Regions from separate parts of the Homo sapiens genome. Here all the other regions are linked to region 3. Evidence: fine-mapped expression QTL. A gene starts in region 3. Each other region holds a variant in brackets. All regions are shown on one strand. Distances are between the middles of the regions.

Region 1 (8,191 bases), 49 kb after region 3:
GACAGAGGTATGTAGATTTACCTGTAGTGGACTTTTTTTTATTTTTTATTTTTTTTGCAAACAAAGAGTAGATGTCTCTCATATATACTCTACTCAACCGAAAGAGATGTTTTTCATGTGTAATCAATATTAGCTGAGTCATATAGAAAAATATTGGTGTTTTAATTCATATTTCCATATAGAGAAAATTTTCTGTATTTCCTAACTTTGATGACAGAAAAGTGATACTAAAACTAGTACAAAATTTTCTTTTTCATTCTTTTGGTAGGAACAGTACATTTTTATTCATGATGCCATTTTAGAAGCCTGCTTATGTGGAGAAACTGCCATACCTGTCTGTGAATTTAAAGCTGCATATTTTGATATGATTAGAATAGACTCCCAGACTAACTCTTCACATCTCAAGGATGAATTTCAGGTATTAACTATTTCTAAAACCTCTTTTGTGACTTACTACAATTTGTTCTGGGCGCTAGGAATCCTTTCAAGGAAGGTCTTTCAAGTCAAATTTATAACCTTTGATCCTGTTTTAAATACAATACGTATCTCTTTCATTATACATATTATATAGTCACTTTTCTATTGATGAATTTATATCTACTATATCCAAAATGACAAATAAGTTCAGACTTAGGGAAGAGCAAAGGGGAAAGGTATCATAAAAGTCAAAAATTAGGCCAGGCGCAGTGGCTCATGCCTGCAATCCCAGCACTTTGGGAGGCCGAGGCGGGTGGATCACGAGGTCAGGAGATCGAGACCATCCTGGCTAACACGGTGAAACCCCGTCTCTACTAAAAAGACAAAAAAAATTAGCCAGGCATGGTGGCGGGTGCCTGTAGTCCCAGCTACTCGGGAGGCTGAGGCAGGAGAATGGCGTGAACCTGGCAGGCGGAGCTTGCAGTGAGCCGAGATTGCACCACTGCACTCCAGCATGGGCAACAGAGCGAGACTCCGTCTCAGAAAAAAAAAAGAAATAATAACAAGTCAAAATGAGTGGTGATTTGTGTGTATTTAGTGTGTATTTATAGCCTTTTTTTCATGCAGTCATACAGATTTTGACCTGGGTCACTCACAATGTGATGAGATCAAGCACATTAATTATAACTGAGTCTGGGTTCAGTGGCAGCTCACACCTATAATCCTAGCACTTTGGGATGCCAAGGCAGGCAGATCTTGAGGTCAGCAGTTCAAGACCAGCCTGGCCAACATGGCAAAACCTCATCTCTACAAAAAATATAAAAAATAGCCGGGTGTGGTGGTGCATGCCTGTAGTCCCAGCTACTCAGGAGGTTGAGATGGGAGGATTGCTTGACCCTGGAAGTTTGCTTAACCCTGGAAGGCTGTGGTGAGCCAAGATATTGCCACTGCACTCCAACCTGGGCAACAGAGTAAGACCCTGTCTCAAAAATAATAATAGTAATAATAATAATAAATGAAGTTTGTAGTACATGTTATTTCAAAATAGCCCTAAATGTTTTCACTGCCCTTAAAACACCCCTGAAGGTGGGTGAAAATAAAATCAAGGGCAGAGACCAAATTCTTTGATTGTTGATCCAGTGCTCTTTCCAACATGCCATAGCTTATCTTCAAATATGGCAAGCCCAGATGTTACTACAAATGATACCGTTTCCCAGTGTGATGAAGGGTCATTATCATAATGGACTGCCCGATTGCATTTTCTTTGGTTAAGGCAATGCATTTTGCAGGTAGCAGTGTTGTTTAGCGTACCTTTTCCTTTTAAGAAGAGGAGCCCTGAACAATGTGTGTCTTGTTTCTTTGTCACTTCTCAGGCTTCATTAGCTTTAACTACAAGGTCTATCAGCCTGTCATAGTAGCAAATGCCATTGCCTCGCACAAATCCTTCACTTTCTACTTGGCCTTCTAAATTCCTGATGGATCTGTGTTATACTGTTAAATGGGTCACACTGTCTTTTAACCTGGGTTCTCTTTTCTTTTTAGACTCTGAATTCAGTCACCCCTCGACTACAAGCTGAAGACTGCAGTATAGCGTGCCTGCCAAGGAACCATGACAAGAACCGTTTCATGGACATGCTGCCACCTGACAGATGTCTGCCTTTTTTAATTACAATTGATGGGGAGAGCAGTAACTACATCAATGCTGCTCTTATGGACGTAAGAGACTGCCCTCTTTGTTAGTGTAGAGTGTTGTGGAAAGCTACATAATGCAACTGAACACTGGCTAGTTTTCTTTTCGAGGAAATTAAAATAACCTAAAAAGGAAAAGTGGAAACTTTTATTGAAACACATTTTTTTGGAAAATGATTTTAGGTTTTCCCTATAGAGATTCTTAAGAACTGTCATTTTTATAGCTTTATTGTAGATTTGGAGCTTGATTGTCAATTATTATATTCATGTAGTAAATATTGCAAGTTATAAATTTCATCTTAATTATTTTCAGAAAAGAAAATCATGCCTTATCTATTTTGAATATAATTAGAAATGAATTTTTTAAATCACAGAATGCCAAATCCTACAAAAATCATGTTAATTTGGGAAATTTTTATTTCTGACATTTAATGTTTCAATAATTTACAATTAATTTGTTGGCCATTAATCAATAAGGACTATTATAAGTAACTAGAGAGGGGATGGATGGTATTATGTTAACACATCCATCATAATGAAAGAACAATCTTGCCCCATTCTAAAATCTTAAATTGCAGGGTGTTATATAGCCCATAGACAGAACAATATGGAAAGAAAGTTTTCTGTTTTAGTTTTTGGTTTTTTTTTTTTTAGACAGAGTCTCACTCTGTCGCCCAGGCTGGAGTGCAGTGGCATGATCTCAGCTCACTGCAACCTCCGCCTCCCAGGTTCAAGCAATTCTCCTGCCTCAGACTCTTGAGTAACTTGGAATACAGGAGCGTGCTCTACCACACCCCGCTTATTTTGTTTGTTTGTTGTTGTTTTTGTTTTTGAGACAGAGTTTCGCTCTTGTTGCCCAGGCTGGAGTGCAATGGCACAATCTCGGCTCACTGCAACCTCTGCTTCCCAGGTTCAAGCGATTCTCCTGCCTTTGCCTCCCAAGTAGCTGGGACTACAGGCATGCACCACCATGCACGGCTAATTTTTTGTATTTAGTAGAGATGGGGTTTCACCATGTTGGTCAGATTGGTATTGAACTCCTGACCTCAGGTGATCCACCTGCCTCGGCCCCCCAAAGTACTGGGATTACAGGCGTAAGCCACCGTGCCGGGCCTTTTTTGTATTTTTAGTAGAGATGAGATTTCACCACATTGGCCAGGCTGGTCTCAAACTCCTGACCTCATGATCCGCCCACCTTGGCCTCCCAAGGAAAGAAAGTTTTAAATTATGACTTTGGCCACTTTACTTTGATTATGTTGGAAAGAAGCAAGAAAGCTATCATGGTTTATAATCTTTTTAAACAGTTTACTGCCTTCATTTCTAGCTTTTGCCCTTTCTCCTATGAAACCATATCAAGGAGAAATTAGAAGCCACGGTTCATTTCTTTCTGACTATAACAGGCTTTCTAAGTTATTGTTCCTGTTAAGCCCACATTCTGTTTCTACGAGTAGTCTTCACCAGTTACTTTACTCTTTTTGGTGCTGCAAAGCGGAATAGTCTAAAGGCAGGCTCTCGTCCTTGCTGTGGTCACTCTTGCCTGTGAAAAGCTCTCATCCTTGCTGTGATCGGAGTCTTGCCTGGCCATTAATCACATCCACTGAAATCACATTAAATCCTAATTATACCTTTTCTTTTTATATTAGGTGTCTGGAAAGGCAAATATACTAAATAGAGAGATGGCATACAATACTTTTTCATTTCTGCATCTAAATATGGAATAAAAAAAGGATGTGTGAACAAGAAAAGGAGAAAATAATAATATTTAGAAAAGCATTGATGCCTTTGAATTTTTTGCCATTGGCATCTTTGTCAAATTTTTCTCAATGTCCAGATTGTCTCCTTTTCTTTTCTTTTTTCTTTTTCTTTTTGAGACAAGCTCTCACTCTGTAGCACAGGCTGGAGTGTCGTGCATGATCACAGATGACTGCAGCCTCAATCTCCTGGGCTCAAGTGGTCCTCCCACCTCAGCCTACCAAGTAGCTAGAACTAAGGTGTATGCCATCATGCCCAGCTAATTTTTTTTTTATTATTTTTTGTAAAGATGGGGTCTTGCTTTCTTGTCCAAGCTTGTCTTTTTTTCTGTATGAAAGTTGAAGCTTGTAATCCACCTGCTCTTACTGTCTGCTTAATCCCCTGTGATTCAAAAAAAAGACATTTCATAGTTAAAGCTGTTCTGGGGATTTAGTAGTGCAAATGAACCGTTGGAGAAGTAAAGCTGGTTTGATTTACAAGAACAGGGTTTATTGTTCACTTCTTTCTCCCTACCCTTTATCCCCATCATTAGTACCCTTTTGCCAGGTCTATGAGGGATTAGGAGCTAGGGCCAAGAATTCTGTAATTTCAAAGCCTTACATATGTTCCTGCATTTAGAGGGAAAAAGAATAGGAAGTCTTCAGTCTTCTCCTCTCTTATCAGCTCCTCCTCATGCATATCCCCTCCCCTGTGGCTCAAAAAATGAGTAGATAGCCGTCAGTCTGCTTTGACTTACCTTTGCATGGAGCAGACATTTGATTGGAAGAAGAGCTTCCTTTCTTCTAACTTTTCTCATTGTATTAGTTCATTCTCACACTGCTAATAAAAACATACCTGAGACTGGGTAATTTATAAAGGAAAGAGTTTTAATTGACTCACAGTTCCACAGGGCTGGGGAGGCCTCAGGATCCCTGCAATTATGGCCGAAGGGGAAGCAAACCCGTCCTTCTTCTCATGGTGGCAGGAAGGGGAAGGAGTGCCAAGCAAAGGGGGAAGCCCCTTATAAAACCACCAGATGTCATGAGAACTCACTCACTATCTGGAGAACAGCATGGGGGAAACTGCCTGCATGATTCAATTATCTCCACCTGGTCCTGCCCTTGACATGTGGGGATTATTACAATTCTAGGTGAGATTTGGGTGGGGACACAGAGCCAAACAATAT[G/T]ACTCATGAACCTTCCTGCCTTTCTTAGGAGACACTCATCCCAGCTGCACGTGTAACTTGGTAAGGTTTTGAGGTCATTTAGAAGTAGCCAGGTAAATTATTATTGTCATCTACTCAGATTTATCCTGCAGTCTTCAGCCAACGCTGAATGCCATGGTTGGTAGCATTTCCCAAATGGTGGTAGCATCAGTGAAGTCCAAGAACCAGTTCCTGTGCTGATGTTAAGATTCTTGAAGGACTTAAATAGTAGTATGATACAAATGAGTTACAAGATCATTGAAAATTTTTGTCAGCATTAGGGAACTCTATAATCTACTAATTATTATTATTATTATTGCAAATAATTAGTTTAAATCAAATGGCAATTGTCCAGTCCAGATAAATATTGTTTTTACTACTTCTCCCTTTGGAAAGAGATAATATATTGTGTTCTAATCAAGGAGGACTTGGTTAACAAGGAGCTATCTCCCCGCTTATGTGGGGACAGGAAATATATTGCTGTTATGCTTTGGTGCTTCAGGATCTTAAATGGTTGAGACTGTCATTATGACCTTTGATATATGTTAGAAATGCCCAGGAAGCTGTGGAAGGTGGATTGTCTGCAAGATGTGCAGAATATCCTGGTAGTGTCCACATAATGTAAAAGCACAAGTGTTTGAGCTACTTGTGGTTTTTCTTATTTGGAGTGGAGAAGAGTAAAACAATTTTACTTGCACGCACACACACTATACACATACCCAGATGATTGATAGACATACCAGGGGTTTTGTGCTTACTTTGCCTTCAGCCTCTCAGAGACTGATTACGTTTGGAAAATTGAAATAGCCCAACAGGAACCTTACAGAGGATGTTAACCTCAGAAGCTTTTTAGTTTCTTCTTTTGTATTTGTCCTGTATTTACGTCTTTCAGTAAAGTAAAAACTCAGTTATTGACTTGAATTGCTTTGGAAGCATTGAAGTCTTCCACCAAATTGATTCATTACTGTACTAATTCAGTTCATTCCAGTGGTCTGAATCTCCTATTCCATGGTTTAATCATCACTCTGGCTCCTTCTGCATATGAAGCTATTGCATCTTACTGGTCCTACATTGAAGTGTATTGTATCTGTTTGTACAACCGATCATACATTTTAAGTTTTTATATTTCTCCATCTACCTTGTTTCTTCACAGAGCTACAGGCAACCAGCTGCTTTCATCGTCACACAATACCCTCTGCCAAACACTGTAAAAGACTTCTGGAGATTAGTGTATGATTATGGCTGTACCTCCATTGTGATGTTAAACGAAGTCGACTTGTCCCAGGTTAATGGCTATGGATTGCTTTTATGTACTTATATACAACTTAATAGAGTAGTAATGAATTGCTAAAATCTGCTTTATACTCTCCTAACTAGAAAAAATAATACTCTTTTTTTTTTTCTTTCAAAACGTTCATCATTTAGGGCTGCCCTCAGTACTGGCCAGAGGAAGGGATGCTACGATATGGCCCCATCCAAGTGGAATGTATGTCTTGTTCAATGGACTGTGATGTGATCAACCGGATTTTTAGGATATGCAATCTAACAAGAGTAAGTCACTATCGGATCCTTTGAGCTGATCTAGAATAGGTCAGTCATAACCAAGATGTGGTATAATTTTATTCAGACAACAGGGAGACTACAATTAATAAGCACTATATCATCCACCTCAAAGCTAGTAACCATCTTATGCCTTAGTACTCGAATAAAAATACAGGAAAACAGAAATGCTGGAAGCTAGGTTTTTCGGTCAGTCACTAGACTAGCATATTCTCTCAGGAAATACAGATGCACTGGCTCAGTCAAGTTGGACAGCCTAGGCCTGGCCTCTGAGTGTATGTAGACTTATCTTAAGGATGACTGCATGTTTTATTAGTATTGACATCCAGCCCAGAAATGGCATGTGATAAAAAAAATAAGAACATTGCAATAACAATAATGACAGAGAAACTGTACTGCAGGAGGAAAGAGACATGTTGGATCAACCATTATAGAAGGGTTCCATGTCACTGTTCCAAGTTCATTATTGATTATCCTACCTGCAATTTCATCTTCCTAAACGTCTCAACCTATGGCTCTAAGCAGATCTAAAGGTAGAACCAGTGCTGCTACCACCATGCCTTTTCCCAGCAGCAAAGTAGTAACTGTATCGTCTTTCTCTGACTCCTCATTTGCTTTCCACTACATGACAAATTCAATGTGGGTGGGGAAGATCTTAAAAAAAAAAGTGCTAATAAAGCCCGGGCACAGTGCCTCATGCCTGTAATTCCAGCACTTTGGGAGGCCAAGGCGGGCAGATCATAAGGTCAGGAGTTCAAGACCAGCCTGGCAACGTGGTGAAACCCCATCTCTACTAAAAATACAAAAATTAGCTGGACATGGTGGTGGCATGCCTGTAGTCCCAGCTAGTGGGGAGGCTGAGGCAGCAGAATCATTTGAACCCGGGAGGCAGAAGTTGTAGTGAGCTGAGATCACGCCACTGCACCCCAGGCTGTATAGAGCGAGACTTCGTCCCCCAAAAAAAGATATTAATAAAAACAATTTAGATTATGTAACCAAATAACAAGCAGAATTGGAAAAGAAAACATTAGTAACTTTCATGAAATTAAGCTCTTTTTAGAGAGAAACATTACTCTGTTTTTTAAAGCACCAGCTCTGTGGGTATGTATTTTAAGTGTGTGATTAGGATTATCATGTTTCAGTGTCTCTCATATCAAAATGACTACGTGTGTGTCTGGTTAATAAGTCTATATGTATATAACTATGAGCAGGGAATGGAATCATATCGACTCCTATTGCTCATTTCAGTGGAGAAAAAAAGGATAACTTCAATCATCTCATAATATTCATGCATATCTTAGATGTTAATTTAAATGGAATCTCATTATGTCTGCACATCTGTTACATTATGGTTCTAGTAATATTTGAGTTGGAAAAAAACAGAACTGCTGAAGACAGTAAGGCTTGTCTGTTAATTGAGCAGTTTATGTGAAAAATATTCTAGGAACAGGAACTGAAATGTTATATTTTTGTCAGCATATTTATTTATTTGTTTGCTTACTTATTGAACTGCCTCTGTATTTGGTATTCTGGTCCTTATTAGTACATGATTTTTTTTCTGTTCTCACTCTCATCATTTAATATATTTAA
Region 2 (8,191 bases), 39 kb before region 3:
AATGCTCGGGATTTTTCAGGTGAAAAATGTACTTTCATGGAGAAAGAAAAAGAGTATCTTAGATATGTCCTAAGCAAAAATATCAACAGAAAAGGCAAAAGCAATGTATTCATTTCATAAACACTTAAACGTCCATTATCCTATTTGAAACCACATATTCCAGTGTGGTTTCAAATAGGATAATGGGCGTTTAAGTAAGTATAATATGTGAAAATGTAATGGCTATTGTATCAGCTTTTGGAGTTAAACATATTTGGGATTAAAAATATCTAGAAACTGGGGTGAATGTTATATCATGAAGACATTTCTCCTGGTATGAGTGGTGGTAGAGTGGGAGGGTTATAGAGTGCGGTGACCAGGTTATCTCCAACTAGCGTTCCATCTAATGTTACTCATTGCACAAAGAATGTTTTAGAAAGTATGCTTGGAAGCCAGTTCTCAGAAGTCTTTTTGTATTTATGTGTCTTAGTTTGCTCAGGCTGCTATTACAAAATACTAGGTGGCTTAAACAAGAAATATTTCTCACAGTTCTGGAGACTGGGAAGTCCAAGATCCAGGTGCTCTCGGATTTGGTTCTTGGTGAGGGCCCCTCTTCTAAACCTAATTATTTTCCAAAGGCCCCCTCTCCAAATACTATCACTTTGAGAATTAGGGTTTTAACATGAATTTTGGGGGAGGGGGCACAAATATTCAGTTGGTAACACTGTAGTATAAAGTAGAGAATGAACAAAGTGAGGTTCCTGGTTTAAGTTTTAAGGGGAGCTCTATTCTTCTGCCTCAGTTTCAATAGTAACAGAAATATAATACTTCATTTCTGTAATGACCATTCAAAGAATAAATGAATAATATTGGTAGAGAAAAGATATATAAGATTAAAGTGCATGGCACTGTAATTTATATTTGTATATAAATTATGTGGAAATCATTTTCTTAATTCTTTATGAAACAAGCATGTTACTTGTATTTTAGAACTTATAAAATTGAAATAATTTATCTTTCATTTTAATTGAGAGTAGGGCCAAATCTGAAAGTTCAACCCAAGGCATTGATTTTTATTTTCTATGGGACCATACTTAAGGCTCTTTCCCAAAGAGCCTATTGCACCTTTTCTTCCTTTACTCTTCTCCAACACTGGCAATTTACTTTGCTCCTCACAGATCTAGATAGACAAGCTGTCTTGCATGAAGTATCCTTAATTTGTAATGTAGAATCTCTGTCAATGTAATAGAATTAGTTAAGATTGAATGTTCACTAGATTTTGTGTTTTTTTTTCTAGAGGTATGGGATAATTAATGAAGAATCTATTTTTAAGGATTAGATTAATGATTAACAAGGATAGGTAATTATTATTATTCTTTAGGGCAAGAATATAAGGTTACATTTGTTTGGAGAGCATGTATGAGGGAGTTTATATGCATATGTGGATGTATCCACAGGACATGCAAATGTATAATATACAAATATGAATTATAAATTTAAAATAAAACATAGCATATGTCAGCTATGATCATTCTCGTCTTTCTCCAGGGCTATGCGTATGTATTTTCTATATCTTAAAATTGACAAATGCCTGCTCCATGGATGCCTCAGAGACCATGCATCTTGTCAGTAGCATTCTTAGAAGCTTAGCAACCAACTTGGCAGAGGTATAGGGAATGATGCAGCACATATAATTTGAAATAACATAGACTTCTGCCTTGCTTGCTCAAATCACAATTTCTAACATTAATACAAGTTCTGTTATCTTTTTAGAGGAAACAAGATGGATATGAACCTACTGATTTATTAGCAATATTTTAATGGAAAATGGGAGCTTAAATAACTAGGAAGAAAAGAAAATCTGTAATTTATCAATTAAATTATGATTTAACTCTTTCTTTTGATGTCCTTTTGTTTAATCTATGAAGATCTTTTATTTGTAGGCATAAGAGTTTATATTAAATTAGAATTTTATGCCAGAGTCTAAACTGTTTTAATTTTCATAGATGCATGTTCAGTGTATCTCTCTCTCTCCTCTCTCTCTCTGTCTCTCTTTCTCCCTCCCCCTCTCCTCCCCACTCCCCTCTACCTACCCACCTCTTTCTTTTTCATGGAAGTCTTTTAAAGAATGTATTCTGTTCCTCCTGGAGATCCATTGAATATCAATATGCAGCCCTGCATACAATTTATGTTCAACTTACCTAAGATACCACATATATTTTTCCAGAATTTTTAGGAATTTTAAAACATTTTAAAATATATTTATAATGTATAAAATATATTATAATAATAATGTCAACTTTCATGGTAATATTTTACCTGAAAAAATTTTAACGTAAAGAATTTTCTACTAAAAAAGAATATTGTTAATATACCAGCTTCAGAGTTGTTAAAAAATATTGTTAGATATCCGGGGGATCTTTATTTTAAATTTGCCTTGTTTTTCTTTTTGTTTTTTTCTCTCCTTTGTAAAGTAATTGCAATTATAGAAAAGTTTTAAGACTTAAAGATATCAGAAGGTTTAGGTTAGAGCTTTAATAGGCCAAATGCCATCTGTTTCTACAATTTGTAACATTTTATTATTAACAACTCCAGAAGAAGGAGGCGGTCTATTTCGGTTGTGAGGACAGATTTCTGTCCATCTGTGCCCGTATTGCCGCATGTCACTTGTATTTTAGATCTACATAGCTCTGAGCCAGTGTAGATGCCATGGCAAGGTCAAGAGGTGGAGAAGCCTGTCAGTACATTCTGTCTCTGAGGCTGTGACAACCACAAATGGGTGCTTCTAGCACCGCCCTGAGGCAGTCATTCTGTTAGACCTTGGAGCTGGACTTTCTGTAATATCATTTCAAGGGAAAATGTTAACTTTAAACATTTAAAAATATCAGACAAAGAACTGAATCTATGATGTGTCTTTGGTTAATGTCAGAATCCTTATTAGGGTGGCTCATTCCTCAACATTTAAAAATGTTGAAAGTCCTACGGTGATTGTTCTTCTTTTTATCAGTTTCTTTGTAACTACAGTGATGTTAGGGACAGCAGCATCTATATGGATTTTTCATTTTATTGCGAAATAGCTGAAAAGAGTATACCAGGTTAAGACTAACTTTAAATACTTTGAAATGTGGTGTGTTAATAGTCAACCCCTTAAAAAAAATCTTAGTATCTTAAATCTCTAAATATGTGTGTATATATATGTGTGTTCTTTTTTTCTTTTCCCCAAAGTGCTTATCAGATTGTTGTGGAAGAACTGCACCCACACCGAACCAAGAGAGAAGCCGGAGCCATGGAATGCTACCAGGTTCCTGTCACATACCAAAATGCCATGAGTGGGGGTGCACCGTATTACTTTGCTGCAGAACTCCCCCCGGGAAACCTACCTGAGCCTGCCCCGTTCACTGTGGGTGACAATCGGACCTACCAAGGCTTTTGGAACCCTCCTTTGGCTCCGCGCAAAGGATACAACATCTATTTCCAGGCGATGAGCAGTGTGGAGAAGGTGAGCTTCCTCCAGGATTTGCTTTTTCCCTGCTTTGAAGAAAAGCTGAAGTCAAATTTTATGAATACTCAGTAGCATCCGTCAAGAAAAAAAAAAAGAAAAAGAAAATTTGCATGTAGGGGGTTCTGTTCTCAACAGTGTGCGCAGTTTTGGGGCTACAGTAGGGCTGAGGCCGCACGCCAGTTCCATTTCACAGGGTTCCTGTTTCCTAGTAACTGCTTCTACTCGAGCCTTCCTCAGGAAAGCCCACAATAGCAATTGAGAGTAAAATGATTTGAAAACGTGGGTGTGCTGCTGCTGGGACTCCACCCTCAGTAACGATCAGGCATTGTTCTGTCTTCCTTGCTCAGTGGTGGCACACTTCAAGAGATTAAATTTACTGCAGGATAAACAGAATGCGTGTTCCACAGCAGGCTAATAAAACCTTATAAACTTTTCAGGGTTTTCAAGCCAAATAGTAAATAACATGTAACAATCCTCTGATTACAAAGTAATAGGGCGCCTGTGGTATATCTGACTGAACCTAAACAAAAGGCAGCCTGGCGATGACTGGCTGCTGAGCCATTACAGAAGGCTGCTCTCTGTTTCCCTGGTTGCCCCTCCTTTTCCCATTTTGGACACAGTTGTTTTTGAACACTGCTGCTGATCCCAAATGAATATTGAAGAGGAAAACACAACAGGACATTAGAAACGACCGGCAGTTCCGTATGTGGGAAAACAACCTGGCCTTTCATGCCTCATGCTGTTCTCTTTGGAAGATTTTCTTTCCTAAAACTTATTTTTATTTATTTATTTATTTATTTATTTATTTATTTATTGGCAGACAGAGATAGAGGGAAGACAAATGTTGAGGATAGAAATTTTCACAATTTAAAATCCAATAGAATGATGACATTTTAATAGACTTGAAGCCGTATAGGAAATTGCTGGGTTTATGTAATTGAGTCCCTAAGGTGAGCACCTGGGAGTGATACATGATATACAATTACATCAGTCATATTATATCTTAAAGAGTTTAATTGGAAGACATAACAATCCTTTTGCATTTCTGCAGGGGCCGTGAGAGCTTTGGGTATTGATTGGCTGCTTTTGAATCAAAGCTTTGTTGTTTGCTTGCCTGTATGCTTGGCTTGTAGGTAGCAAAGAAAAAGGCCACAGCATCTTCTAAGATGTGCTCCAGAGTCAGAGGCTGCTCATGGTTGAAGATGCTCTTCTCGTTTACCTTTAAAGAACTGAGGTCTTTAGAGAGTAGTCCAGTGTCCACTTTCTGCCTACATATCATTCCATACCACTGTTACAACTGGGCTACTATAAAAACAGAACAC[A/T]ATGGAAGTTATTAGTCCATTCTGGGTATAATATAGCATTGAGTAGGAAGCATAGTTTTGTGTGAGGGTTTTGATCTTTAGAGAGGTTCCAAATTAACTTTGGTTATTTGGTCTATTATACCAGAGGAGTGTTAATGAATGTCTGTTACTTATAAAGGATTTTCTCTGCATTCTTTAAAGCTTTTTGATATGAATTTTCTCTTCCAATTGTTAATATATCTGCACTGTGGTTTAATCAAAGTACAGAATAGCAACAATATATTTCACAGTTATCTTGGCAAAGAGTTTTAAAGTTGATGTGACTTCTACAAGTAGAGATTGGTAATGCCATTAGAAAGTTAAACAGCAATTGCTTTTAAGAAATGAAAATCCTTTGGGGCCTTTATGGGAATGTGAAATAATCTCTTGCAGGTTACCATGAAGGTCTCAGGCCACAAGTAATAGAAGTGCAACATTTTATTTTTAATTACTAATTCCCCCCTCACTGCTTTATTTTAATTTAAAAATAAAAAAATAAAAAATGCTTAAGTGGAAATTGTAAACTCTTTTATAAATTATCAACATATAGAACTACTCAAGATAGAGTTATAAATGCATCTTGCAAACAGATCGCCTCTGGTTTGTTCACTGGCTTTGATACCTTTTCTCACCTCTTGTGTATTCAGGGATGTACGCTGACTCAATTAAGTCCTAGAGGAGGAAGAGTGGGGCCAAAAGTAGCTGGCAGGGACATGTGTCTCCTACTGCCACCTGACAGCGTTAAAAATAATCATATTTTTTCTTGTCCTTTCCTACTGCTTCTACTTTGTATACCCGCTCTGTCTAGCAAGAGGAGGAAAATTATGTATGCTGAGAAACATTTAACTCCTAATAGCTAAATTAAAAGAAAGAAAGAACAGATAAATTACACCATAACTATGATGTAATGTTTTGATGATCTTTCTAACTGCTATCATTTAGCTTTTTAGTCATGCTAGGATCCAGATGAAAGTATGTAATGTTCAGCTTTGGTCTCAGTCTACAGTTCTCAGATGAAAATTAAATTTATATTTGGAACTGTTTTTATTAGCTTTGCAAGTACATTTTTCTGATAGTTTACGAAGCACTATACATGAAAATAGAATGCTATACTACTTGTCACAAACTAACCTGTTTCATTGCAAGGTAAAAACAAATATTTACATCTCTATAAAAACTAAAATATTTTTCAAAGTTCTTACTTTAGATTTTTAAGTATCCCTAGGGGGGCATATTTTTTAAAGTTTTCTTAATATTAAAATTCTGTTGTTTATAATCCCTTTTTATGACCCCAGATGGATCTTCATAATAATTATAGTTTATGAAACAGGAAACATTATCTGTACATTGACTCTTTTTTTTTTCATTTTTACTCTATCAGGAAACTAAAACCCAGTGCGTACGCATTGCTACAAAAGGTAAGAGGTTTGCTTTTTTTGCTTGTTTTAACTACTCTCACCCCCTTTCTAAAATGGAAGGACTTTGTTCCCTGCTTCAGGGCTAAATATGACATTTCTGTTATAGTTAGTTCTGTGACTCATGTGGGTGTCTTTAACAACTAATGGGGTGCTACTTCCCATCCTCTAGTACTTGACTGAAGGAATCTTGTTATGATAACAGGAAAGATCTAGAAAACCTTAGAAGGGCTTATTTCTGCCATTTAGTGTCTGAAAAATCTTGTGCTGCTGATCAACCAATATCTTAGGAAAGCGTCAGCAATAGCAGATGAAAATAGCAAGTTGCTTGTTTAAAAACCTCTATTACTTTCCATTGTAGACAATCAAACATAAAAAGAACCAAGCTAATTCATGTTTACATAAGATTATAGGGATAGAGATTAGTCCATATCTTCATCAGTAGTGCAGTTAGCTTGAAGATCATTTACTTTTTTTAAAACTTATTCTGAGAAACCAGATCTGTGATGGCTAGCTCATAACCAGGGCAATTCCTGCTGACCTGGCATATTATGGCTTAGCTGCCTAGTTTCTTTGACAAGAGAAAACATTTGCATCTTTGAATGAATATTTAGAGTTCCAAGTGGGGGAAAGTCTCCTACATTCTCTGTGTTTTTAATTCTTCATTTAAGAGTTACTTGATTGTGCCAACAAAGAATAAATTGCTACTTGGTGTATTCTAGCAAGAGAAACATGAAAAAGCTGTCTGCATGCAGACGTGGGCCTCCTCAAAGGGTTGGTTCTTGGGGTGGTTTGCTGCCGGAATTAGTAGCAGACCCACATTTGTGTCCAGTAGTTGATTCATTTGGGGTAAAAATCAATGGCCATATTCTGTTTGTACTGGCATCTTTCCTTTCATCAGTTTTCTCCATCTAATCATCAGTCTGCTCAATCAGCATTTGTGCTTTACTCCTGATTTGTAAGGCAATAAAGAAAGACTTTCTCTTTGACGCTTGTGAATAATAAAGAAGCTTTATGGAAGAGAAAAAAATATACTTTTTCAATTCACTTATGAAGATTCCTTTTGGTAGTTTTTATTTAAAAAAGCAATTCTTAAAGAGAAAATATACACAGATACATACGATGTATAAGGATTTTATTTTAAAAATTTAGCTTACTGATCAGGAACGAGAGTTGAAATTTTTAAAAGATAATAGAAGAAAGCATTTAGGTCTATATCACCTGTGTTTTTCCAGATTTAAAGTAGAACCAAAATTGTAAAAGTGTCCCACATTGACCTCTGAAGTTCTTTAGATATGTCATGCTATGTTTCTGTAACTGAGAAATGGTAGCTATATATTACCCTAACATAACTTTTTTATTCAGTTATTTCATTATTTGCTCTTGCCTGAGATGTTTGTGTCCTTTTATCGCTCTCTCGATACAAATTTAAAAAAATGACAAATATCACATGATATTTAAACTATAGGAGGATTGAGATCCTGGAAACAGTCTTACCATGTGGCATAGAATAATTGACAGAAACTTTGAAGTGGTAAAAAATAGTCCATTATTTGTCTAATAATCCAGCTCTGCTACACTTCTGGATCTCAGGAATGCAGTGTGGTGTGGTGTAGTGAGTAAGAGAAAGGACTCTGGCCTTACACTATCTGAGTTCAAATATTGACTGTGTCCCTTAGGAATTTTTTAGTATTGAGAAACTTATGTAAACCCTCATTCCAAAAATTAAATAATAGAGTACCTACACCTTCTTATTGTTGTGAGGATTAAAATAACATATATAGGCCAGACACGGTGGCTCCTGGCACTTTGCAACGCCAAAGTGGGAGGATAGCTTGAGGCCAAGAGTTTGATATCAGCTTGGGCAAAATAGCAAGACCCTGTTTCTACTGAAAATTTAAAAAAAAAAAAAATGTTAGCCAGGCTTGATGGAGCTCACCTGTGGTCCCAGGTAC
Region 3 (8,191 bases):
TGGAAGGGAAGATTAAGTCAGGAGGCAGGGCTCAAAGGGCATCTGAAGGTGAGAGGCAGCAGCCCGAGGATGCCTCAGGAGTCTGCGTTGTACAAGAAGCTGGACATTAGAGATAGGTCGCAGGTCAAAATCAGATAGAATTTTGCGATCAGAGCAGACACAGCAAACCAGAAGCACTTGAACTGTTCAAATAGCACCTTCTTTCCACAGCAAGTCCTTGCTGTTGTGACTGCGAATACACTGGTCCACTGAAGCCTGTGACACTTGCAATTTGGGAGCTTATCACAGCCGGAGGACCCTGACACAGGGTGAGGGTGCAGGAAAGACAGGACATGAGATTGAGGATGCTGACTCAGACAGGTCACTGGACCGTTCCAGTGTTTTTCTTACAGGGAAAGAGTGTAGGAGGCAGTGCATCTCTTTGTCTTTGTCACTTAACTTTTGGTGTTCTTTAAACTGTTCTAAATTAGTTCAAGATCTACAAATTGAAGGCTAAAGAAGGGAGGATAAATAAAGCCCAGCCCAAGCAGTTTTGATTGTAGAAACATTTGGAAGTATTTGGGTTGTTAGGGGAAAGGAGCATAGCTGATTTTTTTTAAATTGATTTGGAGTTTGGTTATTTGTCATTTACTCATTAGTTACTTTCCTCCCCAACAATAACAACAAAAGATAATTACCATAGTCTGTTCTTACATGAAACACTGAGAAATTTTATGTAGACATTGAAATTACTTCATCAGTTTCTTCTGTGAATGATTCATTTCACATTTCCCAGTCTTATGTAAATTACTCTGCAGCATTTATATAGCATTAGTGTCATGCAATTTGTATCATTATTGAACATTTATTTTCTTTTCAAACAAAGTGCAAAGTGCCAGAGGATGGGAAGTATATCTTTAGCTGCAGTTTGAAAGAAAATGTACCAAGCTTGGTGTCGGATGACCTGGGTTCTACAAAGCAGTCGTGTACGTTTAGCCAAATCACCTGTTCAAATCTAGGTTGCCCAAACTATAAATGCACTTGAATGAGTGATTTTTCAAGAATGTGGGGCAAAATGAAGTCAGAGCATTCAAGGCTGTGGTATCTTATTTCTGTTTCAGCTACTGTGTCTGTGCTCTCAGTGTTTCATATATTGGGTCCCTACGTATGATTTTATTTTTTAAATTTCTACTGCTAATAAAAGTTTCACAGATGTGATAGTGTCCAGTATTTCTTTCAAATTTGAAGTTTCATTTGATTTAATCATTTTATCTATCATGTCATTTAGTGTAATTTTTGAACCTAGTAAGTGTCTAATAAATATTTGCTGGGGAAAAAAATGAATGCTATGGTTCAATCATGCAATACTCAGATGTTCGTAACCATTTCCATGTGAAAAGTTTAGTATAGGCTGTAGAGAATGACATTTTAGACTTTTGAGGGGAATTATTTTTATGTCAGCTTGAAATTCTTCTTGAACTTGATTTCTGACTTGGGGGAAAAAAAGCAAGCCTGATGTGCACAAGCTTTATACAGAGAATCAACTGTTTTTAAAAGAATAATCCAGCTGCTATCTGATCAGCCAGGTAGGAGTTGTTCTGTGGAAATGAAGAAGCCCTCCATTTTCAGTCAGAGTCACGCATATAAAGGCTTTGATAAGATTAAAATAATCCAAGAATGCAATTTCAAGATGCACAGCTAGAAACAGCAACTAAGAAATATCCATATCTTACAGGACACAGCTAAGGGAAGAGTCAGGTTTTAAGGACCGTCTACAGATAATGTCAGGATGTACAGATAAATATGAGCAACTGCTGATTGAGCTAGAAACACTGCTGGTTAAGTTATAAATCTTATGATTTTTACCCTTCAAAATGCCTCTTTCCTTGCTGCTTTATATTTTTTTAAAGAGCGGAGTATGTTGTCACTTGGAGGTTGTGCTGCTTTCCTGTGACTTTAGTCACCTTTGGTGCCCTGGCCAGATCCCTTTTACCAAGCCTGTAAAATGCCCAGTTTCCGTCAGTGTTAGCTGCTATTGGCTCACAGCCCCCACTTCTCTTCAGAATCACTTGTAGCTGAAAAACATTTACTTTGCCAAACCTTATGTGCCCATCTCCCAGCACTATCAGCTCATATCTGATGACTAACTGACATGGGGAATACAAAAAGCCAGTGCCCTCACTTCATTAGGTCAACTCTGGGGCAATTCATGCTCTAGTGCTCCCCGTGACATCAGGCTGAAGTTAGACTTATGCTAATACCACATTCTCACTTAGCTGCTTTCCCTTTCCTACCCTACTTTCCTCTCTCCTTTTCATCTGACAACACTCCCTTAATAAATCATGTGCATCCAAATCCTTGTCTTAGGCTCTGCTTCTAGGGAACCTAAGCAGTGATATTTTTGAGAGTATAGATTCTTTCTTCTTTTATCTTTCATCCTCAATCTCCAGCACATCTGGATCATGATGCTTTACAAGTATTTTGAAGAGTAAGCAAAGTAAGAAATTTGGCCTTCATTTGGTGTGTTAGTTAGTCCTTGCATTGCTATAAAGTAATATGTGAGGCTGGATTATTATTATTATTATTATTATTATTATTATTATTATTATTATTATTATTTTGAGATGGAATCTCACTCTGTCACCCAGGCTGGAGTGCATTGGCACTACAACCTCTGCTTCTTAGGTTCAAGTGATTTTTCTGCCTCGCCTCCCCAGTAGCTCGGATTACAGGTGCCCGCCACCCTGTCCAGCTAATTTTTGTATTTTTAGTAGTGATCGGGTTTCACCATGTTAGCCAAGCTGGTCTTGAACTCAAATGATCCACCTGCCTCAGCCTCCCAGAGTGCTGGGATTACAGGTGTGAGCCACTGCATGCAGTCAGAGACTGGGTAGTTTATAAAGAGAAGAGGTTTAAATGGTTCATGGTTCTGCAGGCTGTAGAGGAAGCGTAGTGCTGGCATCTGCTTCTGGTGAGGGCCTCAGGGAGCTTACAATCATGGCAGAAGGTGAAGGGGAACCATGTATCACTTGGCAAGAGAGGGAGACAGGAGAGGGAAGGTCCACACTCTTTAAACAACCAGATCTCACAAGAACACTCATTACTGTGAGGATGGCACCAAGGCATTCGTGAGAGAGCCAACCCCCAAAACCAAAAACCTCCCACCAAGTCCCATCTCCAGCATTGGGGAATACATCTCAGCATGAGATTTGGAGGGCACAAACACCCAAACTGTATCAGTTGATCAAGAACTGACCATGGAAGATGGATAGTTGAAGTCACAAGCAGTCCAGCACAATTCTAACCTTACCATGAATCTGAATTCTTAGCTCACTAAAGATTTAGGAACAGAATTGGGGAGTAGAATTATGGTCATGTAAAAATAGAGTCCGTTTAACATCCTAACCTTAAATCAGAAACCATCAAAGCATCATATCAACAAAAAAATTGTTTTCACTTATGAAAAATATGAATATTAACACAATTTTGTTGCACACTTACTCTCTGCCATATGTCTTACACTAGGCATTGAGAAAATACTAAAAATACATAGGATATGTTCCATGCTCTCAAGAAGTTGTGAATTGTGAAAGAACCTGATAGTTGAAGTAATAATTTCATGCAGTGTGCCTAAACATGAAATAGAATTCCATACAAAGTGACATTTAAATAGGTAGAAAAACCAGAGACCATATCCACACTGGTAACAGCATGGGCAGAGGTTTGCAGTTAGACATGAAAGTTAATGCAGTGTTCAAGAATATACTGAGGAGTTAGTAAGAAATTAGGCTAAAATGTATGTTGATACAGATATGAGAAAGGGCTGTAAGACTCAAGATTCACTTTATCTTGAGGGCAGGGTGGCAGCTATCAACAGTGCTAAAGCACTTTCTCTTCCACTTTAAAAATTAAAACAGTGTGGTAACCTTAAAAGGTGTTCTGAAACAATATTCTAAGCAACTGTTATCACTTTTGCTTTTTCCTTTTTTTTATCAGGTGCTTACTTAAACATTTCTCATAATTGCAAAGATTGTGACTTGTAATTATTTGTAGTTACTATTTTACCATGAGCTTTACCCACATTTTTATGTGTTTTAATTTTAAGTGGCTAAATATTATTATAAATAGTGTGTGCAGTATAATTTATATTCGTCATTTTCATTTTCCCTGAAATCTTTGTAGGCTATTAAGAAGAACAATGATAGGATCATATTTAAGTTTTAGAAAAATGACACCTTAAAAGCTGCAGGTAGATTAGGATGAGTAGGACTTGGAGTCAGAAACTTCAATAAGGGAGTGGCTGCAATATAGACTAGGAAAGAGGTGATACCAACCTGTCAGTGTCCTCATCGGTAAAAGAAGATACAGCTGGGCACAGTGGCTTATGCCTGTAATCCCAGCACTCTGGGAGGCCAAGGTGGGCGGATCACTTGAGGCCAGGAGTACGCACCAACTTGGCCAACAGAGTGAAACCCCGTCTCTACTAAAAACAAAAATTAGTCAGGCACAGTGGCACACGCCTGTAGTCCCAGCTACTCGGGTGGCTGAGGTAGGAGAATTGCTTGAACCCAGGAGAAGGTTGCAGTAACCTGAGATGGCTCCACTGCACTCCAGACTCGGTGACAGAGCAAGACTCTGTCTCAAAGGAAAAAAAAAACATACAACAAGCCTCATAAGTGCTTGTGAAAGCTAATTGAAATAATATATTAAAAGAGTTTGGCATTTAGAAAGCTCTGAAACGATCATTCATTTAACAGAGGAAGCTATGAACATTTTTTTTTTAAAGGTCAGTTTGACTTTTAGGCACCTGATTTCCTGAAGGACTCTTTGAACTCTTTGAATGTGGGTACTGTTTTATGCATTTTCATGTGATAACTAAACAGCCTGATTTACATTCTTGCCCAATATACGTATTTCTTCAAATAATGAACTAATGAATTCCCGGGCAATAAATACCTTTTGGTTAAATGGACAAACAGTTCTGTTCAGTGGGAAACATGCTAGTAGAGTCTGCTTTTAAAGGAATTGCTGTATGCAGTATTCTAAGAAATAATGAGGAAGTATTTTTACTTCAAAATACTTTGATCATAATATGATGATAGGTATTTTCTTCTCTTGCCTGTGAAAGTGTGTGTTAGGTATGTACATTATGGGGCCAAACTAGTGATTGTTGCTAATTAGGATATATGTGGCGCATTCTATCAAGAATCCCAGTTTTCTGGGCACTGTGAGCTGTAAGTCAAGTCATAAAAAGGAGTGAATTGTCTTTTTCATATATAGCACTGAAATTGACTGGAGTTAATTATTTAATGCCTACCTCCCCTACTAGACTACAGGCTGTGTCACACACCTCCCTCAGCATCTAGCACAGCAAATGGATTTAGTAATATTTATTGAATAGATTAAGAAATACAGAGTGAATAAAATAGGACACTGGTTGGAGTGTTGGGTCAACCACAATTTTGGTGTGATATATTCTACATATCACAGTGAGAAGGAAAATGATATAAAATGAATAATATCCTCCTTAAAGTACTATACAAAAAGAATACTTCTTATATTTTTTCAAGATGATGTAATCTTGTCAAATATATAATATGTTGCATGCCAGTGCTTTCTTAATCCTTAATAGTAATACCAGTAATTGTATATTAAGTTCCTGCTATGTGTCAAATACTTCTAGGTACTTTAAATGTATATTCAGTAATCTTCAGAACAAGCCTAGAGAGCAGAATTTAGTTATTTCATTGTAAAGATGAGAAAAGTGGGTCTCAAAAAAAGCAGATAACTTGTCCCAGATCACACAGTAGTTTTTCTTGGTACCTGGAGTGATTTTCATCCCTCTTTCAAATACAACCCTTTGGCTATTGGGAAGTAGCTATTACAACTGTATTTTTTCTTTAACTTGATGTAAGGGAAAGACCACTTTACACATATACAAATAGGAGAAAGTTTTGCCAGACCTTCTGCAGCTAGTATTTACATGAGTGAGTAGAGAATTGTAAGAGGTTCTGGTAGCAGTAAAAACAAATTACAAACAACGGAACATGAAGAGAAGATGTTGTCTACCAACATCTGTCAAATATGGCAGATGATCTTCTTTGTCTTATTTTGTTCAATACCACTCAATATCATCACTTAGGCCTCTCTCTCTTACTGTTTAGATCTCTTGGGATTCTCTTAATTTTTTAAAGCCTATACCTTGAAAAATTCTGTTTAAAAATACATTGGAAAGCATATAGATTTTAGTAGGCTGAATAATGGCTACTGGAAGATACCAGGTCCTAATCCCAATAAGCTGTAAATGTTATCTTTTAGGGAAAAGCGGTCTTTGCAAATGTGATTAAGTAAAGGATCTTGACAAGGTAGATTATACTGGATTAACAGTGTGGGCCCTAAATCCAGTTACATGTATTCTTATAAGAGCAAAGCAGAGGAAGATTTGACAGAGGAGAAGTCAATGTGACCACAGAGGTAGAGACTGGAGTCATGTAACCCCAAGTCAAGGAATGCCAGCAGCACTGGTAGCTGGAAAAGGCAAGGAATGAGTTCTCTTCTAGAGCCTCAGCAGCGAGGGTAACCCTACTGACACCTTGATTTTGGCCCAGTGATACTGCTTTGGGGCCCTCTAGTTCCCAGAACTGTAAGAGAATAAATATGTGTGGTTTTTAGCCATCAAGTGTGTGGCAGTTTTCTGCAGTGGCCTTGAGAAACTAATACAGACATAGAAAATTATTTTATGACTTTTTCTTTTAGATGCAGTTGTTAAGTCAGCATTTGATCTTATTTGAGCTAGATAGAACCAGGGTTTTCTAATCTACAAACTATTGATTTTCATCTTGATTTAAATGTGTTTACTTATTCTTCCTCTATAAGGTAGGACAATTTTGCAAAAGATGTATAAGAATGTGTGTCTCCTTTCAGGTTCAGCTGAAATAATCTTCATATAACAAAAGTTAGAGAAAACAATCTGTCTGAGCCAGAGACTTCGTTATATGAATTCATACAAACTAATGAAGGAATACAAAACTTGGCCTCACAGGGAGAGAGTGGAGTGTCTTATGCAAATCTTTGTTGTCAGCCACATTCCTACATGCAGAATGCAAAAACCATGTTTCAGTTTGTTGAGGATTTGGAAATAGCTTGAGATAATCTTAATTTAAAAGGACTGGCAAATTCTTTCAGCTTTGTAGAATTTATTCCACATATGTCAAAGACAAACTTGTTGTACTGCAAAATAAACTAGTACTGTGTGATCTTAGTTGAAAAGGTAAATATTACAATTTACATTCTATTCTCTCATATTCATTCTTTTGGTACATGTTAATAAATTGCAAAACTATATTGCTGAAAAATCTAATGATCCTGAAAAATCTAATGATAAATTCTAGCAATTATCAGTGATTACAATATAGGCCTGGTTTGTTGTTGTTGTTGTTTTTGTTTTTGAAAAGGAATCTTGCTCTGTTACTCAGGCTGGAGTGCAGTGCCACGATCTCGGCTCACTGCAACCTCTGCCTCCCAGGAGGTTGCAATTCTCCTGTCTCAGCCTCCCAGGTAGCTGGGATTATAGGTGCCTGCCACCATGCCCAGCTAATTTTTTGTATTTTTAGTAGAGATGGGGTTTCACCATGTTGGCCAGGCTGGTCTTGAACTCCTGACCTCAAGTGATCTGCCTGCCTCAGCCTCTCAAAGTGCTGGGATTACAGGCGTGAGCCACCATGCCTGGCCATAGGTCTCATTTTGTACACTAAGAAAATGTCAAATTACTAATTTTCATACTTAGTGCTAAATTTACATTTATCATAAATGTAAACATGTAATAGAGAACCAGTAATTTTTTATTTTCCTTAAAAATGATCCTGGTAAATAAGAGAATTGATTCATAAGATCATGGTTTGTTGATGCCATAGCAACATAATCTTATATTGAGAACATCATCTGTTACAATGCAAGTAGTTGTGGCCATGTGCCTAGAATAGACTTAGTTATTAAAGTACATTGTGATATGATAGAATAAGATTTGTCCAGATGTTTACAGAGCTCTTACAAGGAATTATTTTAGTCTGTTTCTAAATTATTTTAGTGTGTTCATCTGGGTTGAAATGTTATGTGCTTAAAGGATTGAGTTACTGTGATGACTTGGAATATTTAAGTAGCTTTGAATTGTGCGGGTATGTTAAATGCCTGTTTGGGAAAGAAAAATAATATG

The links. PIP is the estimated chance that this variant, and not a neighbour inherited with it, causes the effect.
Region 1: its variant is fine-mapped to the expression of PTPRK-AS1 in whole blood (INTERVAL, PIP above 0.99).
Region 2: its variant is fine-mapped to the expression of PTPRK-AS1 in whole blood (TOPMed, PIP 0.93).

What each region holds. Positions count from the first base shown.
Region 1 is chr6:127,975,058-127,983,248 of GRCh38, reverse strand. It overlaps PTPRK (protein tyrosine phosphatase receptor type K), which reads left to right. Exons shown (of 30, transcript NM_002844.4): 23 at 1-7; 24 at 269-418; 25 at 1,960-2,133; 26 at 6,195-6,326; 27 at 6,467-6,592. Among named protein-coding and RNA genes, the nearest start is that of PTPRK-AS1, 49 kb to the left of the region's middle. The variant G/T (reference allele first, on the strand shown) is at 5,024.
Region 2 is chr6:128,062,806-128,070,996 of GRCh38, reverse strand. PTPRK (protein tyrosine phosphatase receptor type K) reads left to right here. Exons shown (of 30, transcript NM_002844.4): 12 at 3,205-3,478; 13 at 6,203-6,239. PTPRK-AS1 (PTPRK antisense RNA 1) reads right to left here. Exons shown (of 5, transcript NR_125849.1): 2 at 8,176-8,191; 3 at 3,401-3,510. Among named protein-coding and RNA genes, the nearest start is that of PTPRK-AS1, 39 kb to the right of the region's middle. The variant A/T (reference allele first, on the strand shown) is at 4,804.
Region 3 is chr6:128,024,046-128,032,236 of GRCh38, reverse strand. PTPRK-AS1 (PTPRK antisense RNA 1) reads right to left here and starts at 4,372. Exons shown (of 5, transcript NR_125849.1): 1 at 4,314-4,372. All of the region lies in intron 13 of PTPRK (protein tyrosine phosphatase receptor type K), which reads left to right.